Linked DNA regions of Homo sapiens: region 1 is linked to region 2. Evidence: fine-mapped expression QTL. Tissue or cell type: blood mononuclear cells. Region 2 holds a variant in brackets; the other region holds the start of a gene. All regions are shown on one strand. Distances are from middle to middle.

Region 1 (2,500 bases), 47 kb after region 2:
ATCGTGATCACCTGTTTCCAAATCTGATTCCCCCATGCTTGAGAGCTCCTTGATGGCTTGGGCATCAAATGTTTCTGTCCAGGTGGGCACACATACCTGGCTGCTGGGGCTCTCCCACCCCAGCGTCCCAGGTCCCAACTCTGATACGCACAGCACCCTAGGCAAGGTTCAGAGGTGCAGAGCCTAGGGGTTCTACCAAGGAAGCTAAATAGGTAGATGGAAAGGGACACTGTAGGCATAACCTGTCAACGAAGTCACACCTCTGAGACCTGCGCTGCCTCTGCAGGTGCAGGTGAGCTTGTTTGCCTGGCTGACTCTGCAGCGCAGGGCCTCCAGGGCACAGATTGCTGCTTCTTTCCTTACAAAAGCACCAGCAGTCAGATAAATAATACATGGCCTTCACCTCACCACAGGTATCAGGCATGCAAATACCTGCTTTGCCCCAAAATGCCCTGGAAAGGAGGGAGGAGTAAAACGTCTGGCCTTATACAACACCTCCAGAGGGGATATGTATTGGGAATCCATGCCCAACCCCCAGCATAACTGCCTTGCCTTGGCCTGGAGCCACCCAGCACTGGAGGTAAGTGGATCCAAGCGAGGTACCAAGGGTGTGCCCAGGAGGAAATGTACAATTCACGGGAAGGATACAGACACCCAAAACCAGTCTCCACGGTCCCTTTGGGGGCAAACATCTTTCGAGCCCCAGGTCCCAGTCGATCCCCTTCCAAACCTGCGGACCTGTGTGGCGGGCGTGTACACCCTCCACTCACGACGCAGCCCCGAAAGCCCCCCGCCGACCACCCTCCCAGGTCACTGCCACCCGCACAGGGCACGGACGCCTCCCCCACTCACTCGGCCGTGCCAGTCGCCAGCACACCCACCCGGGAGCACACAATCCCTCTTGCAAAGCGCCTTGGTCCATCCGCCTCCCTCTCCCGGGGCCGCCCCCCGGACAGGTCCGATTACACTCCAGGAGCTGCCCCCGCCACGTTGGCGTGGAAAGGGAGCGGGCACACCCACGGGCGACCTCGCGGGGCGGAGAGGAGGCACGGGTGGGGAGACGGATGCCCCCTCCCTCCGCGGCCGCACCGGCCTCCGTAGTGCCCTCCCCGCCCGGGAGCCGGCGGCCGAAGCCGGGCGTCCCTCGCGCGGGCCTCTCCGAAACAAGCAGCCCCCCGCGCTCGGGAGTCGCAGCTCCCCCTTGGGGCTCCCGGGCGAGGCCGGCCAGGCGGGATACCTCAGGAGCCCATGGCGGTGGCGGCGTCTGCGGACGATGCGCGGCAGCCGGACTCTGCGGGCGGGGCGGGCGGCGCCGCAGCCCCGGAGTCTCCGCCGCCGCCGGCGCGTCCCGGGCCCAGTGGAGTGCAGCCGCGGCGCGCATGCGCTCTGGGCTCGCCGCCGGGGAGGGCGGGGCGGCGGACGCGGCTGAGATCACTGCCTGGGCCTTAAAGGGGCCGCGCCCCGAACCCCAGCCCGCCGCCCCGAACCCCAGCCCGCCGCCCCGCGGGTTGGGGCGCGACCCGGGTTCTCTTGCCACTCACAAAACCAGCTACGACCGGCCCCCAACCGCGAGAGCTTTCTGGGCTGCGATCTCTGCCCCTGACCCTCGCTGGTGCTTCACTTCTTTTAACCCTAATTTCCTCCATTTGAGCCTGTTTTGAAGATGAAACGAAATACAATGGCTATTTGTTGAGTGAAGGATGCGTGTGGAATTGTGGAATGAACGTGGACCGAGTGTTGTGTGCAATTAGGCCAGATGAAATGGCAAAGCACTGAAAGAGGCCTTTTTTTCCCACTCCGCTTAGCAGCGATTCTTTCTTGCCCCGTCTGGCTCTAGGCTGCCGAACTAGCAAAAGTCTTCAGATAGGGTTCAAGCCGCCTAGTCCATTTCTGTTTGCCGGTCCAGACATCACCTAGGTTAACTGAACAAGATAAAATGCAATTAAGTTCTGGCATTGATGTGCTCAAGATCCCCAAATGTATTTATGTCTCCAGACTCCTCGCCTGAACTGTCTACCCAACACCTCTTCCTTGGAGCTCCAGCAGGCATCTCAAAGTCAGCGTGTCTGAGCTGAGCCAACCCCACTTCCACACACAAAAACCTGCTCCCTCTCAGCTTTGCCTCCATCAGCTGTTGACAATTCCATCCTTCCAGTCCCCAGGCCAGAACTCGGAGTCAGCTGTGAATGAATGCCCCCCTTCTGCCCGCTACCCAATAAGGCAGGCAGGAGATCCTGTTGGCTCTACCTGCAAAATAGATCTAGACTCAGATGTCTGCCACTCCTCCTCCAGTGCTACCACCCTGGTCCAGTATTTGCACAGGATTATTGCAGAGTTCTGCTAACCCCTCTCCCTTGTTCCAGCCTTGCCCTCTGATCCATTCTATCAATTCAGGGGTGAGGGAGATCCTTTTTTTTTTTTCTCTTTTTTCTTTTTGAGACAAAGTCTCGCTCTTTGTCTCAAAGTTGCCCAGGCTGGAGTGCAGTGGCGCGATCTCGGC
Region 2 (2,756 bases):
GACCCAGAATGATTCCTTTCCTGCTCCCCCTTCTTCCACAATGCCCCATTCAGCTGCCCACATGCCCCAGTGAGGATGTGAGCAGGGCCACAGCTGCTCCTGCAGGGCAGGGGTAGCGACACAAGGCCACAGCCTCCGGAAACCCCACTCTCCCAGCTCTTTGCCACCGAAACTGAGATGCCAGCAATTACGCAGGGTCTCCTGGGCCCTCTCATCCATGTAGCGGCCCCACCAAAGCTCTCCCTAGCCCCTGGGAAAGGCCCTCGAGGGCTCAGATTTCACCCCCAGCAAGTGCCCAGTGGGCTGAGGCCCCTCTGAACAGGCCCTACAGGCACCAGGGACCATAAGCAGAAGGGGCAGCAGGAAGCGCAGAGGACAGGGTGGCATGGGCAGCCTCCAGGTGCTGGGAGGGGGCTCACCTTGCCAGAAGGAAAGAAAGATGACGGACTTGACCATGAAGAACTTGAGGACGGGGCTGTAGGGGCTGAGCAGCTCCCGGGTGGCGAAGTAGAAGAGGAAGAGGGCGTAGAGGGCCAGGCTGACGGAGATGTTGTAGATGATGGTCACGTAGAGGTAGCCACTGGTGACGCTGCGGGACGGGGAGCATTTTCTGGCTGGGACAGACCCTTGGAGGGAAGGGGCTCTCCTCGACTGCACCACACACAGTCCCCATGGCTCTCAGCCCCACACCTCCAGCAGAGCTCAACGAGCCACTGAAGGGGTCAGAATGGGTGATCAAAGCGACAGACAGGGGTGGGGGTACATGGGGTGCGCCTGCAGGCCAGACCAGCTCTACTGCCTCTGCGTGGCTCGTGGACTTGTCTAAGCCCTGGTGCCCACACTCCTAACGTTGGACACCAGTGTGGAAGCCAGGGCCGGGCCCGAGGCCATAGCCTGACACTCAGATAACAGGCGTCAAAATAGGTGACGCTGCTCAGCTCTGCTGCCTTTTCACTCGGTCGGCTGCATCCCCCTGACCTCCTTTTGCCCACCTGCCCTGGCAGGGCTGTTACACAGTTCACAGACAGTGTGTGCCGAGAGCTTGAAAGCACAGGGCTAGACACATGGTCACTTTTTTTTTTTTTTTTTTTAGATATGGAGTTTTGTTCTTGTCACCCAGGCTAGAGTGCAATGGCGTGATCTTGGCTCACCGCAACCTCTGCCTCCTGGGTTCAAGCGATTCTCCTGCCTCAGCCTCCCGAGTAGCTGGGATTATAGGCACCCGTCACCACGCCCGGTTAATTTTTTGTATTTTTAGTAGTGATGGGGTTTCACCATGTTGGCCAGGCTGGTCTTGAACTCCTGACCTCAGGTGATCTACCCGCGTTGGCCTCCCAAAGTGCTAGGATTACAGGCGTGAACCACTGTGCCCAGCCACGGGGTCACTTTCACTAAGCCCAGAATGAAATGGGTGTGGACAATTTACACAGCACGGGCTTTGTATCTGTGGACTTGAGCCGACCTCTTGGGGCTCTGACCCTCTCGCTCCCTGCCTCAGCAGTGGTCACTGTCCCTTTGTGGCCCATCCCTTCATGGTACCACTCTGCAGCCTGGACATGAACGTGACTGCTGCCAATGGCTCACTC[C/A]GGGGCTGGCAGCGGGGCCAACTGCAAGGGTGTCCACTGCTGGGCTCAGACTTCAGGGGGGTTGTGAGCACCAGACACCCAGGAAGGTCATGGCTGTGCGGCCACTCTGGCTGCCCCCTTCCCTGAGCCAAGGCACCAGCCTGCGCCAACACTCCTCCCACACACCCCGGGGAGCACCCGCTGCTTACTCAAAGTCCCCATCCCGGTACTTGCCGAAGGCCTGGAGGACCACAGTGCTGACCGCCATGAGTGGCTTCACCACACAGAACTGCAGGGTGGCCTGTTGGGGGGAAAAGGAGGTTGAGTGTGGAGGAGGAGCACAGAAGGCATGAAGCAAGCCCTGCCTCTGGCAGACGGAACTGTACCGGATGGAGGGACAGAGAGGATGAAGGAGACGGAGAGGACGGAGGGATGGAGGGACGGAGGGGATGGAGGGACGAAGGGATGGAGGGGATGGAAGGATAGAGGAGATGGAGGAGATGGGGGGTGGCTACGTGTCCTGCTCCCAGGGGACTGCTGTCTGCGCGGGGCGGGGGGCAGAACATATAGGAGATGCAGCCAGCGCAATGCCGTATGTGATATGAGCATGTGGAGGAAGGGAGGGAGGAAGGGAGGAATGGTGTGGCAGGGCACGATGGAGGCGGGAGACAGGAGATGCACACAAGGAAGCTTCTCGAGCCAGGACCATCAGGTGGGTGCCGGAGATGAGAGGCTCGACAGGCAGAGGGGGCAGCTTGCACCAAGGCCCCGAGGCAGAGGGTGGACAGGTGCAAGGGGCTGCGCACTAGAGAGGTGGCTGAGGAGATGGGCAGGGCCAGGTCCTGGAGACCTTGGTGCCCGGGGCAAGGCTAGGGCCCTGCTCAAGGAACCAGCCACCGGGAAGCCGGCGCAGGTGAGGGCCTCCTCCCATCCTCCATGTCCACCCCCGATCTGGTTCCTAGCCCTACTCTCTGGGCCTGGGTCCAGGGTTTCTGGTCAGCAGAGGTCACTCTGGGGATGGAGGTGACCTGCAGGAGCCCAGAGCACGTGGACTCCAGAGTCTCAAAATCTGAGTTTGAACTCTGGGGACAGCTTGGGCAGACACTTGGCCTCTGAGCACAGACTCCCTGATGAAAAGGATGTAGTCACTCCCCACACCACAGGGCCACTGCTGCGGGGATGGCACAGCCA

The links. PIP is the estimated chance that this variant, and not a neighbour inherited with it, causes the effect.
Region 1: TMEM184B starts here. The variant in region 2 is fine-mapped to the expression of TMEM184B in blood mononuclear cells (TOPMed, PIP above 0.99). The same link has a PIP of 0.9 or more in transverse colon and whole blood.

What each region holds. Positions count from the first base shown.
Region 1 is chr22:38,271,647-38,274,146 of GRCh38, forward strand. It overlaps TMEM184B (transmembrane protein 184B), which reads right to left and starts at 1,364. Exons shown (of 9, transcript NM_012264.5): 1 at 1,238-1,364. RefSeq lists an enhancer at 115-824 and a silencer at 887-1,516.
Region 2 is chr22:38,225,005-38,227,760 of GRCh38, forward strand. It overlaps TMEM184B (transmembrane protein 184B), which reads right to left. Exons shown (of 9, transcript NM_012264.5): 6 at 1,775-1,866; 7 at 420-589. Among named protein-coding and RNA genes, the nearest start is that of SNORA92, 1.7 kb to the left of the region's middle. RefSeq lists an enhancer at 1-155. The variant C/A (reference allele first, on the strand shown) is at 1,587.